Homo sapiens: one gene and its partner. Each later gene encodes a partner of the first gene's protein in a complex. Each region holds a gene or a part of one and is shown in the gene's direction. Other genes may lie near its edges. The genes, in order: USH1C and CDHR2.

The links.
Region 2: USH1C (region 1) and CDHR2 share a complex: the UniProt entries of both Homo sapiens proteins name them as parts of the IMAC/intermicrovillar adhesion complex.

Annotation. Positions count from the first base shown.
Region 1 is NC_000011.10:17,493,375-17,499,662, reverse strand, and holds the end of USH1C (harmonin), read left to right. Parts: intron 1-1,391; coding exon 1,392-1,501; intron 1,502-2,048; coding exon of another isoform or gene 2,049-2,144; intron 2,145-2,849; coding exon 2,850-2,905; intron 2,906-3,985; coding exon 3,986-4,094; coding exon of another isoform or gene 4,095-4,310; exon of another isoform or gene 4,311-5,250; intron 5,251-5,286; coding exon 5,287-5,331; 3' UTR 5,332-5,763; downstream 5,764-6,288. UniProt on the Homo sapiens protein: Anchoring/scaffolding protein that is a part of the functional network formed by USH1C, USH1G, CDH23 and MYO7A that mediates mechanotransduction in cochlear hair cells. Required for normal development and maintenance of cochlear hair cell bundles.
Region 2 is NC_000005.10:176,587,071-176,594,341, forward strand, and holds part of CDHR2 (cadherin-related family member 2 precursor), read left to right. Parts: intron 1-1,960; coding exon 1,961-2,112; intron 2,113-2,259; coding exon 2,260-2,368; intron 2,369-2,457; coding exon 2,458-2,546; intron 2,547-3,007; coding exon 3,008-3,076; intron 3,077-3,182; coding exon 3,183-3,260; intron 3,261-3,354; coding exon 3,355-3,415; intron 3,416-3,492; coding exon 3,493-3,617; intron 3,618-4,139; coding exon 4,140-4,253; intron 4,254-4,333; coding exon 4,334-4,414; intron 4,415-5,652; coding exon 5,653-5,710; intron 5,711-7,271. UniProt on the Homo sapiens protein: Intermicrovillar adhesion molecule that forms, via its extracellular domain, calcium-dependent heterophilic complexes with CDHR5 on adjacent microvilli. Thereby, controls the packing of microvilli at the apical membrane of epithelial cells.

The DNA of each region.
Region 1 (6,288 bases):
CTGGGCAGCTGCCCCAGCCCATCAGTGCCCACCCAGGCCCCACCTTCTTCTTCTGTCTTCATTTCTCTGTCACCTGGTGACACTTCTGTGATACCTGCCTGCTGTGTCTAGCAGAGAGAGGGGACCAGGATGGATGGGTGACTCTCCTGGGTCCTTCCCACTTACAAAGCCCCAACCCAACCACTGCCTTATTGCCCCTGAGACTCTGTCATGGATTTGTACAAAATGAAAAGGTGAAAGTCACCCATCCCCAGTTGCACTGCACAGAGGCAACTGCTTTCTGTGGTTTGGTCCTGCACTGCTTTGAACATAACTAGTCACTGATGAAGCTTCCCTAGGAGCACGTGTGTTTTAAGCCACCATGGCCACCATTGTCAGTATCATACACCACATTCCTATGGGCCTTCATGCCACAAGGCTCCTGGGTGATCTATTTCAATGTAACCTGGAGAGTGTTCTGTGGACATCAGGACTGGGAGAAATTCCTCCAAAAAGGGCTCTGATGTCAAAGAGGTGTGGAAAACCACGCACAATCTGTCTACCTCTTGGAAAGCTGCAGTGCATGTTAGCACATTCAAGACTGACAAATCCTGCAGTGAGTAGCTCTGTTCAGCTTATAACTCAGCTTTCCCCAAAATTATTAGATCCCAGGCAACTCTTTCAGGAGCACCTTATTACAGCTTCATTTATTCAACAAATATCTACTGAGGTCCTATTTTGTGTCAGGCATTATGTTAAGTGCTGGGGATATTATGGTGAACCAAAAAGACAATCCCTGCCCACGTGGAGCTGACAGTGTGGTGGGAGAGACCATCAGTAAACAAACAGATTAATGATTACGAATTGTGGAAAATGCCAAATAAGAAAAGATTGGGATGCTGTGAGAGAATAGGCAAGATCTACATTCGACTGAGCGGGGGTCAGAGAAGCCCCTTCTGACATTTCCTCTCAGACCTAGAAGAAGAGAAAGCAAGGTAGGGAACAGCGACATGAAGCCTCTGAGGCAGGAGAGAGCATGGCAGCTCAGGGACCTGAACAGACCAGCATGACTGGCAACAGGGAGGGCCGGCTGGCAGAATTGACTCAGGCCTCATACTGTGCTGGAAATGCAGGTCTGTGTCCCTCTGTAATAACAGAGGCTCATCATCAATGATATCCAGGTTCTCCTGAGCTGGGGTGAGGGGGTGTGGAAGGGACAGGGACTAAATGCCCTTTGACTAGCCACTAACCAGGTGGCTAGTTTCCCCTCATGCTTTCTGAGTCCACATGAGCTTTCAGAACCCAGGCTCAGGTCTCTTCTGCTGTCTGGCAATGACCCCCCTTTGCCAAGCCCTGGGCCAGGCACGTGTCACATACAGCCCAGTTGGCCAATCAGCCTCATCTGCCTGCAGGTGGCATTGTGAAAGGGGACGAGATCATGGCAATCAACGGCAAGATTGTGACAGACTACACCCTGGCTGAGGCTGAGGCTGCCCTGCAGAAGGCCTGGAATCAGGGCGGGGTAAGAATAAGGCCCCTCCCTCCTTTCCTCCCTCACCTGCCTGCCTCAAACCCTGGCCTCTGCAGCCAGGTCTCACAATAGGATGCCTCATTCCAGGGTGGGCATCTGGAGTCCAGGCAACACTTTGGTGACACCATACCCCATCCAGCCTGTGGTTTAAATCTGACAAGATGGGATTCAGAAAAATAGATGTCAATTCCTGACCTTGGATCCAAAAAGCCAGTGGCTTAAACAGACTCTTGAAGCCAGGGCATGGCAGGTCACCCAAGAAAAAGACTTAAGGTCTTTTCTAAGTGCACACTGAACAAGAATCAAGAGAATTCTGGGGGCTACCAGAAAGCATTAACAAAAGCAGAGAACCCAGGATGAAGGAGGGGCTGGTGGGAATCTGCTCTGCACTCATTAGACACCCACCTGGATCACGGCCACTGCATAAGATTGCCCAGGCTGTGCACTACATAATCTGAGGGGGTGCCCTTTTACAGACTGTAGTGTGAATGGTGCCTGCTCATGGTGTGCAATGCACAACCTGTGCAACTGTATGCAGGCAGCCGAGCCTGAGGTATTAAGTTCAGTGCCGAGGAAGCTGACCAGATGGGCCTGGGACCCACATGAAGGGATGTGGAGAAGAGAAGACTCACGGGTAACATGATGACTATCTTTGATTATCTGAAGGTCTGCATTAGGGCAGAGGGAGCAGAAGTGTTCTCTCTGATTCTTGAGGGAAGACCTGGATTGGATGGAGGGAAGTCCTGGGGAAAGAGAGAGAGATTTCAGCTCAATATTAGGAACCAGCTCATGGTAGAGGGGCCCAGTGATATTTCCAATACTTTTCAGGGGATACACCTAAGCCAAGGAGGGAGAATGAGGGGCAAGTCAAGGATGGCAGTAAAAGGGATTCAGGTGTTAGGATCAAAAAGCTGGGCCAGAAGTCCCCCACTTGATTGTGCATCAGAAAGTGCGTCGGAATTACCCAGAGAGGTTGTTAAAAGTACTATTTCCCAGGACTCACCCTTGACTTCTGGGGGCCAAGTCTACGAGCCTACACTTTTAAGAAGTTCCCCCAAGTGATTCTGAGGTTGCTGCCTGTCCCCGGTCCATAGATTGACATTTGGGAGCTGAGTGTCATTCAAGGGCCTTGCAGCCCTGTCCTCTATGGTCCCGAAGCCTCAGAGACTAGAAACGTCCTCAGACCATGGAAGTCACAGTGGGCCCCAGGTGGGCCCGTGGGAAGAAGGTGCAGCCTGGCTGATCCTAGGCCATGGGGCCCAGAAATGGGGATGGAGTGCCGGGGCAGATGCACCATCCAACTGAGTGTGCCCCAGAGTCACACGGCTTCTCCCCACAGGACTGGATCGACCTTGTGGTTGCCGTCTGCCCCCCAAAGGAGTATGACGATGAGCTGTAAGTGTGTGCAAGCACCTAGCCTGAGACCTCTTCTTCCTTCTCCAGAATCTCAGCCACCTTTCTCCAGCCCATCCCCAGCCTTCTCCCAGCCTGAAGGAATGGCCCAAGCACGCAGCTTCTCATAGCCAGAGCTCCTAGAAAACTCCTGGACTAGAGCCAAGTCATTGTCCTTAAGCAGTGTCTGAGCTGCCTCCCGGGCAGTCTTGTCCAAATTCTTCTCTACTATGGGGAATTGAGGCATGAGGTCTTAGACCGGGTAAGCAGAGACGTTGGGAAAAAGACTCAGGATTGTTAATTCCCCACTCAGAACTTTATCCCCTGCCCCATTATTAGATGGTTAGAAGGTGTCTGTGTCCATCCTTCACTCTCTGGAAGGTCTTCCTGATGTCTAACTGCATTCACTCATACTGTGCCTCTAGGCAGCCGGGACCACAGGCTTTTGTCCCCACGCTGTGGGATCTCCAGGGAGCTTTGGCCTAGACTGTCTCTCTCTGTGATTCCCTGTGTGTCTGTCTCTTGTGTCCTGTGGGTCTCTCTGTCTTCTCTCCTCCTCCCTCTCTGTCTTTCTTTCACCCTTTCCTTCCTTCCTGTCAACATCTTATCTGCCCCCCTCCTTCCCCTTCATCCCGGTCCCCTTTCTCTCTCACTGTCTCCTATTCTTTCTTCCTGTTTCTCTTCATCCCTGTCTCTGAGTCCCTGTTCCTCTGTCCTTGTCATTCTGCATCCATTCTTACCTCTTTGTCTGCCTTTCTCTGTTTCTCTGCCTCTGTGTGGTGTCTCACCTCCATCCTCACCTCATCCCATCACCTCCCCAGCCCTCACCCACCCACCACTCACCCACTCACTGACCATGCCCTGCCTCCCTGTCGTGGCTGGGCCTGCTTGCTCCCCGTGCCCAGCAGAATCTGAGCTCTACACATGTCTTGGAGAAACCAGGGTCTCGCAGCTCCTAATTCTGGAACCCAGGGGCTAGGCAGAACCCGAGGCAGGAGCCCAGTGAAAGGAGAAGCCCCATGGAGCTCTGCCTGGGAGTAACCAAGCCTGTTTTGTGTTTCTTGCTCTGCTCTGTATATATAGAGCTTCTCTTCCCTCCTCCGTAGCTGAAAGCCCCCAACCGGTCCGAAAGCTCCTTGAAGACCGTGCTGCCGTGCACAGACACGGGTTCCTCCTGCAGCTGGAGCCCACGGTGAATAGGCAGGCGGGCCACAGGGCCCTGTGTGTCCCTGCTGCTTGCAGTGGCCATCTGCTGCCCACGCTGTCAGCAGGTTCTTTGGACTGGCGTCTGGAGGGTACACAAGGCGCCATCCCTGAAGTGCTGCCTGGGGCCTGCTGTTGGCCACAGTGGAATTCCTCAGACTCAAAGCCCTCCCCTCAGGGAAGTGGTGCAAAGCCCAGTCTGTAGTACTTGCTTGGGACCCAGGTGTCCTGACTCATCACGGCCCTGGGACCTGCTTTGGGTCCCAAGCAGCACCCAAATGAGCAGGATGAAGCCCTGGGCAACATTCTCTGAGGGACACAGACAATGCCTCGAACCAGGCATGTGGGGCTGAAGGAGCCCACAGGAAGCCTGGCTGGAATTGCCCCCAAGAGATGTCCTCAACAGAATGTGAAAATTCCCCTTCCTGTGAATGCCAACCTCCTGGGAGCTCTTGCTCCACCATGGCCCCCACACTTGGCCAGAACCAGGGCTATTAAGAGGTTTTGAAGGCTGGTCCAAAGAACCAGGGTTGGTGGATTAGAGTTGCTCATGTCCTGTTGTGCCCTGTCATGGCCTGAGCCGTGCTTAGACCAAACGGTCTTCTCTGCCTTCTCCCTTCCTTGGCTCTGGGCTCTATCTGTGGGATATACCGTGGAACCCAGCTGTAGGATGTGTTTCTCACCCTGTGATAGGGATGTGCCCGTGGACAGAGCTGGCAGGTGGCTGTGAAACTGGTGTTTGGTGTGGCCTGAAGCCACAGATGGCAGCATCTGGGGCAGACCCAAGCCTGGACTTGACTTTTCTGTTACAACTTTCCCAAAACATTAGGGCCTCATGCTCCCAAGACACTTGGCCGGGTAGACCATGGCTTCTGGGGTGGCCTGCATGGCCCTATGTTTTCTGTTACTTGCCTTTTGCAAAGGACTCTTGCCCCTGTTCCTCCCAGTCTCCTCCTTCCCCCATCCCAGGTGTCCCTCCCGCTTTCTCCCTGGCCTCCTGTGTGCTGTGGCTGTGGCTGGTGTGTAGCCACTTGGGGCCTGCACCCAGAGGGGTCTCCAAAGGGTGGCAGGGCCTTGTGCTGCCAGAGTGGGTACTCCCCCTTGTGGGGCCTTGCTCTGGCTGGGCTGAGTGTGCACCCACAAAGCCTGTATCCACCTGGGCTGTTTCCACTTCCCTGCAGGACCTTCTTCTGAAGTCCAAAAGGGGAAACCAAATTCACCGTTAGGAAACAGTGAGCTCCGGCCCCACCTCGTGAACACAAAGCCTCGGATCAGCCTTGAGAGAGGCCACACTACACACACCAGATGGCATCCTTGGGACCTGAATCTATCACCCAGGAATCTCAAACTCCCTTTGGCCCTGAACCAGGGCCAGATAAGGAACAGCTCGGGCCACTCTTCTGAAGGCCAACGTGGAGGAAAGGGAGCAGCCAGCCATTTGGGAGAAGATCTCAAGGATCCAGACTCTCATTCCTTTCCTCTGGCCCAGTGAATTTGGTCTCTCCCAGCTCTGGGGGACTCCTTCCTTGAACCCTAATAAGACCCCACTGGAGTCTCTCTCTCTCCATCCCTCTCCTCTGCCCTCTGCTCTAATTGCTGCCAGGATTGTCACTCCAAACCTTACTCTGAGCTCATTAATAAAATAGATTTATTTTCCAGCTTATAGGAGTGAGTGTGGATTTGGGCAGCAGATTCAAGGCTGCAAATCAAAAAACCATAAGGTTTGTGGCCCCTATTCAAGGGTGATAGACAGATCCCAGTGCTGTGATCTGGGTCTGACATGAAGGGTGTGATCAAATGGCCAGGGCTGGCTTGGAGCAGAGGTTGAGAAAGCAGGAGATGGGCTGGGCTGGGCTTCAATGTCTTCTCAGCAGAGATGGTAGGAGATGAAGTCTGTGTGGCAGGGATTTTGCTCAATTCCAGAAAGCAGAGCTGAAGGCAGGAGCCCCGAAGGGTCACCTCATGATATGGGGTGCCCAGCTTCTTTCAAGAACGACACAGCCACCAATGCTTCTCCTGAGGTCACCACGACAGCATGTGAGGGAGGAAGATGGCAGGGTCCACTCCCTCCGTGGAAGCACATCCCACAGAAGCTCATGGGAAATGCAAGGGCTTGAGGCAGGAAGGCATAACTCCGGGGGCCCAGCAGGGGGAATGTCACAGTTCTTCTGGTGACAGGGACC
Region 2 (7,271 bases), on another chromosome or scaffold:
ATTTCTTACTATACCAGAATTCTTGAGTAATACAGAGAACTCATAGCTAATTGTAAATTAAGCCAGTGCCTTGTCATTAAATAATTCTCAGAGCCAGCTGGGCACGGTGGCTCAAGCCTGTAATCCCAGCACTTTGGGAGGCCAAGGCAGGTGGATCACCTGAGGTCGGGAGTCTGCGACCAGCCTGACCAACATGCAGAAACCCCATCTCTACTAAAAAATACAAAATTAGCTGGGTGTGGTGGTGCATGCCTGTAATCCCAGCTACTTGGGAGGCTGAGGCAGGAGAGTCACTTGAACTCGAGAGGCGGAGGTTGCGGTGAGTCGAGATCACGCCATTGCACTCCAGCCTGGGCGACAAGAGTGAAACTCTGCCTCAAAAAAAAATAAATAAATAAATAAATTATTGGAGCCAAGTCATAAAAAGGCTTTCAGCTGTTTATGGTGTTGGATGTGGCAAGTTTATTAGGGGTGGTGGCCATGCCGTGTGGGGATGAGGCTTCCCACACCACCGAGGGCTGGGCCTGGCTGGGCTTCTTACTGACCTGGAGAGCTGCCTACCCTCTCTGGGACTCCGTTTCCCTGTTCAACAAGAAGCTAGCAGTTCCCAGAAGGTGGCATGTGGGTGCCATTCCCTATGCTTTGGAAAGGACATGGGTACAAGAGATGGACAGGGCTGGCCTTCCCCACTTAGAGCCGAGTGTAAGGACAGGGTCTCTCGGAGCCTCAGCTTCCTCTTGTAAAATGGGGATAGTAATTCTCCCTCTCTAGGTTGACGTTCATGCTAGAGACAGTGACTGTGTGACTTTCAAGTCTTAAGACAGCTTCCCAATCTTCTGCCAATTTGGTTCTAATGTCAAGAGTTTAGCCACGGCAATTTTCTTTAAATAGATTCCTTTTTAAGACCTAAGCACTGGTGTTGGCCTATCCTTAACAGTAACGTTGGTGAACTCGAAGCTCTGTGTGCTGGTTAAATTTTTCTCTAAAAGGCACTAGAATGAATAAAAATGCTTGTGTCCCCTCCCCAACCAGCTTCATGGTCTACTAGGGGAATTGGTACTCCCCGCACGGAAATGAGGGATCCCAGGGGAGGTGCTTAGGAAATCTGAGCATCGCTGTGTGTGTGCACGCCAGTGTGTGTGTGTCTAAGTGTGAATGTGTGTGCCTGAGGGTGTGTATAAGGGTGAGTGAGTGTATGTGAATGTGTGTGACAGTGTGTGGGTATGTAGGTGATTGTGGGTGTGTATGTGTGTGACTGTGCAAGTGTGTGAATGTGTGTGAATTGAGTGTATTTGTGTGAGTGTGTGTGAATTGAGTGTGTGGTGAGTGCATGAGAGAGTGAGGGTGTGAGTGTGTGTGTCAGGATAAGTGTGTGAGTGTGAGAGGGTGTGTGAGTGTATGTGAGTGTGAGAGGATAAGTGTGTGAGGGTGTGTATGAGTGTGTGCATGTGTGTGAGTGTGTTAGGGTGAGTGAGTGTATGTGTGAGTGGGACAGTGTGTGAGAGTGTGTGTGAGGGTGTGTATGAGTGTGTGTGCATATGTGTGTAAGTGTGTGTTAGGGTGAGACTGAGTGTGAGTGGGACAGTGTGTGAGAGTGTGTGTGTGTGAGAGGGTGTGTATGTGAGAGAGACTGTGTGTGTGAGTGTGTGTGTGTGAGAGAGAGAGAGAGTATGGCAGTGGAGGGGTGTAGGGGGAGCAGGGCAGGATTTCCACATGTGAGGGACTTAGGGCAGTGATCTGTTTGGAGTTGGGGAACAGGGGCAGGTTCTTGTCCAAATCTGGATTTGCAGAGCAGACACACTGTTTTTTGAAACCATTTGCTTATTCGGGGCAGCGTGGGGATGGCGGATAGAGACGGTGAGGGCCAGCCTCCCAGGCCACCCTTGCCTCTGATCCCTGCTGGGGTGGAGGGATGCCTGGCCTGGCTGGGCCCCCAGATATTGTCCACTCTTGCTCCCAGGCCAGAGACGATGATTCAGGGAACAATGGCGTCATCCTGTTCTCCATCCTCCGAGTAGACTTCATCTCTAAGGACGGGGCCACCATCCCTTTCCAGGGTGTCTTCTCGATCTTCACCTCCTCCGAGGCCGACGTGTTCGCTGGGAGCATTCAGTAACTGCGGGCGGCCCCGGGAGGGAGGTTGCGGGGAGGGGCCCGATAGGAGCTTTCAGGCAGCAAGTCCCCCATCCTGGAGGTTACAAGGGTCCTGAGGATTCAGCTTGGGTTCCAAGACTGACCTGCGCCTCCCGCCTTCCGCAGGCCGGTGACCAGCCTCGACTCCACTCTCCAAGGCACCTACCAAGTGACAGTCCAGGCCAGGGACAGACCTTCCTTGGGTCCTTTCCTGGAAGCCACCACCACCCTGAATGTGAGTGCTGGTCCCACCTCCAGCCCCCAACGCCCTCTGCCAGCCCCCAGGGTCCCTGGTGCCTCATCTCCTGCACACCCCCTTCCCAGCTCTTCACCGTGGACCAGAGTTACCGCTCGCGGCTGCAGTTCTCCACACCGAAGGAGGAGGTGGGCGCCAACAGACAGGCGATTAATGCGTAGGTCTGGGGAGCCCCGGAGGGAGGGGTAGGAAGAACAGGGTGTAGGAGCCTGGTCCCCGACAAAACCTGGATGGGATGTCTCTCAATCCTGTTCCTGACCCACATTTGACCTTGTCCCTGTCTTCAACCCTGTACTTTCACCTGCACGACGTTCTTGCATGTCCCCAGAAGCCCATACCCAGCCAAGGGCAGAGGGAAGCCTTGGAACAAGGCTGCCGTGTACAGTTGTGAAGGCTGTGTGTTGCACAAGGGCACTCTGCTTGCTAAGCTATTCACCCAGCCCCAGAGGAAGGGATTTCCTTTTGTAATTTTCACAGAGATGCTACCTACTCAGCCAACAGAGCTGTCCAGAGGAGGTGCCCTTTCTCACTCATACAATTCTTAATCCCACTGGCACAGCCCTGGCCACAGGCCCAGGCTAAGACCCCAGGCCTCTGTGACATCTGCCTTCTTTGCAGGGCTCTTACCCAGGCAACCAGGACTACAGTATACATTGTGGACATTCAGGACATAGATTCTGCAGCTCGGTGAGTGCCCAGAGGCCTGGGGGTGGGGTTGAGGGGGAGAAGCGGTAGCAGGAGGGGCCTGCTGGGTGATCCAGGCTCCTGACTCTTCAACTCTGTCCCGCTCCAGGGCCCGACCTCACTCCTACCTCGATGCCTACTTTGTCTTCCCCAATGGGTCAGCCCTGACCCTTGATGAGCTGAGTGTGTGAGTGGGGCTGCCCTTGGGGCAGGTGTGAGGGTGAGCAGGAAGCCTGGGGTGTGCCAAGGTCCCTCGGGCCTAAGTGGAGTTCTGTGGCCAGGATGATCCGGAATGATCAGGACTCGCTGACGCAGCTGCTGCAGCTGGGGCTGGTGGTGCTGGTGAGTGCGGGCAGGGCGGGGCAGCAGGTGGGGCTGCTGAAGACGAGTGTGCTTCCCTCACACTCATCTTTCTCCAGGGCTCCCAGGAGAGCCAGGAGTCAGACCTGTCGAAACAGCTCATCAGTGTCATCATAGGATTGGGAGTGGCTTTGCTGCTGGTCCTTGTGATCATGACCATGGCCTTCGTGTGTGTGCGGAAGAGGTGCGGCTCCCATTGCCCCCGTGTCTCCAACCTTCACCCTCTCCCACCACCCAAGACGTCGGGGGGTAGGGGTAGAAGGAGCTGGGGCTTAGGCACAGGTATACATGCATTCACTCCCCAGTGACCCAGTGCGAGATCTTGGGTGAGTCACCTCCCCTCCACGGGCCTCAGTTTCCTTATCTGTGAAAGGGCATGAGACTTGATTCCTCAGTGCACTCAAGGAAGTAACATGCATCTCACACCCAGCTAGACGTCTGGCACACACTATGCGTTTAATAGATGCTGCTGCTTTTTCCAACATGTATAGAGTCAGCAGCCGTATCTGGGCTTGACTTCAAGCCTTGTCACTGGCTATTTGACCTTTGGCAAATCACTTGCCTTCTCTGGCTCTTACTTCTACCCTCTGTAAAATAGAGCTAACACTCACCTCCCGGGATCTTGTGAAGCCACAGGCTCAGGGCCTCCACTGGGGACACAACAGGTGTGCAGCAACAGTGTGACCCCTCTTCCGGTTCCCCACAGCTACAACCGGAAGCTTCAAGCTATGAAGGCTGCCAAGGAGGCCAGGAAGACAGCAGCAGGGGTGATGCCCTCAGCCCCTGCCATCCCAGGGACTAACATGTACAACACTGAGCGGTGAGCAGGGGTCAAAGGGTAGGTAAGAGGCCTGGTGGGGTGGCTGAGGGCCAGGCAACTTGACCAGGCTTTCTCTCCAGAGCCAACCCCATGCTGAACCTCCCCAACAAAGACCTGGGCTTGGAGTACCTCTCTCCCTCCAATGACCTGGACTCTGTCAGGTGAGCAGTGCCCCTCACAGCCAGGCTAGGTGGTGGTGGTGGTACAGGTAGTGACGGTGGTGGTGGTGATGGTGTTGGTGGTGATGATGGTGATGACAATGGTGATGGTGTGGTCATGGTAGTAGTGGTAGTTATGGTGGTGGTGGTGATGGTAGTGAGGTGATGGTGATGGTAGCAATGGTGACAGTGGTGATGATGACAACAATGATGGTGGTGATGATGGTGTTGGTGTTGAGGTGATGGTGATGGTTGTGATGGTGATGGTGGTGATGATGGTGATGATGACGATGGTGGTGGTGGTGGTGGTGTTGGTGTTGAGGTGATGGTGATGGTTGTGATGGTGATGGTGGTGATGATGGTGTTGGTGTTGAGGTGATGGTGATGGTTGTGATGGTGATGGTGGTGATGATGGTGTTGGTGTTGAGGTGATGGTGATGGTTGTGATGGTGATGGTGGTGATGATGGTGATGATGACGGTGGTGGTGGTGGTGGTGTTGGTGTTGAGGTGATGGTGGTGATGGTAGTGGTGGTGGGTGATGGTGGTGGCAATGGTGATGGTGGTGGTCATGGTGGTCATGGTAGTGGTGGCAGTTATCGTGGTGGTGGTGGTGATGGTGGTGGTGATGGTGATGGTAGTGATGGTGATGGTGGTGATGATGGTGATGATGACAATGATGATGGTGGTGGTGGTGTTGGTGTTGAGGTGATGATGGTGCTGATGGTGATGGTGGTGATGATGGTGATGATGACAATGATGATGGTGGTGGTGGTGTTGGTGTTGAGGTGATGATGGTGGTGATGGTGATGGTGGTGATGGTGATGGTGGTGGTGGTGGTGTTGGTGTTGAGGTGATGGTGGTGATGGTGATGGTAGTGATGGTGATGGTGGTGGTGATGGTTATGATGATGATGGTGGTGGTGGTGTTGGTGTTGAGGTGATGGTGATGGTGGTGATGATGGATGATGACGGTGGTGGTGGTGGTGTTGGTGTTGAGGTGATGGTGATGGTGGTGGTGATAGTGATTATGATGATAGTGGTGGTGGTGGTGTTGGTGTTGAGGTGATGGTGATGGTGCTGATGGTAGTGATGATGGTAGTTGTGATGATGGTGGTGGTGGTGATGGTGATGATGGTGGTAGTCGTGGTGATGGTGATGGTGGTGATGGAGGTGGTGGTTCTTGGGCACAGTAAGGGAGGACTGGGCCTGCCAACACCTGAGCTCCATCACCTCTCTTACAGCGTCAACTCCCTGGACGACAACTCTGTGGATGTGGACAAGAACAGTCAGGAAATCAAGGCAAGATGGGGGATGAATTGGTGCCTGGAGGTTCCAACTTGGGTTCTTCTGTGGAGGCTTCAGGGCAGAGCTCAAGGGACCTGCTACTGACATGGGCAGTTCTGCTTCTCTGCACCAGGCCCCAGGAAGCCCTGTGGCTTTGGAATGGGGTCCAATTCCTGCTCCTCCACTGGTTCACTGTGTGACCCTGAGAGACTTCTTGCCTCTGCTTCTCAGTTTTTTCACCTGTAAATGGGGATGGGAACATCAACCATGCAGGGCCATTGTGAGGATTAAATAAGGGCAGGCATAAGAACCACTTGGCACAAACAAGTGCTCACCAATCTGCTTCCAGCCCTTTATGGCCGTTATAGGAAAGCCAGCTGGGGGTGGGAAAGCAGATCCAGAGGTGAACCAGCATAGTCTAGCAAAGGAGAGAAGATGGGTTCAAATAAACAACAGTACCGCCATCTGTTAAACAGGTGAGTTGGTTGGATGAGATCAAGTGTTCATAGACTGGCCTGCTGCGTAAAAGCACCTGAGGAGCTCTTGAAAAATACTGATGCCCAGGTCACACCCAGGTCCATGGGTGCAACATTCTAGCATTTTAAAGACCAAGAGTTCTGATTCTGATGGCCCACGTGGAGCCTGGGCATGGACCTGTTGTAAAAGCCGCTCAGGGGGTGCTAAGGTGCAGGCACGGTGGACACCGCTGGAGCGGGTCAGCAGGCTGAGTGTGGGGTGGGTCCTGGACATGGAGGGGTGGCTCTCTGGAAACAGAAGGAACTGCCCTCTCTCCTTCCCACTTTGAAAGCCACCTCTGGAGGAGACGCTTAAGGCCCATTGGAGCTGTGATAGGCTGAGGTTCTGTGTGTGGTGCTGCGGGGGATCCACCCACATTTTCCCCCAGTCTGGGTTCTGGGCTTGGCTGGGTCCCAGGCCACTAGGGGCTCCCAACCTGACTTCATGGTTCAGAATTTGTTTTCCCTGAGGACTCCTTACATGGAAAGATTTGGTCAACCGAAGCCTCTCTTGGTCTTTAAAATGGTAGAATGTCGCACAGGGGCCCAGGTATAACACGGTACAGGGAATCTGGCACAGAGGCCTCCGGACAGGCCCCAGGTATGGTTGTGTGGGTGGTAATGCAGGCAGCCAGGCAGCGCTGGAGGCCTCTGGGTAGATGCTAGGAGATGGTTAGTGGCCAAAACTCTAATGAACATGTCTGGGGAACTGAGGCGAAGGAACAGTCTTGTCTACTGGAGTGCATGGCCTGTGGCAGAGGCTGATGCTGCTCCTAACCCAAGGGAGTGGAGTTAAGGACCCCCTGAGGTGTGGCTGGATCTGTGGACTGGGAAGGGGCAGGGAAGTAGGAGAAGGGTCTGGAGAGGGTGTGGGGACAAGTCACGGAAAGTCTTCAAAGCCAGAAAATTGCTCAGATTATGTCCTGGGAGGGCAGGGGGTTGCTATATTTCTGAGAAGCTGCCCAAGGCTCCACCCTGTCTCCTGCAGCAGTGAGTCTTGCGGGTCTCTGGGCAGGTCCACGAGGCATGGGGCCTTTTTGGGAGCTGTCTGCCCCCTGCTC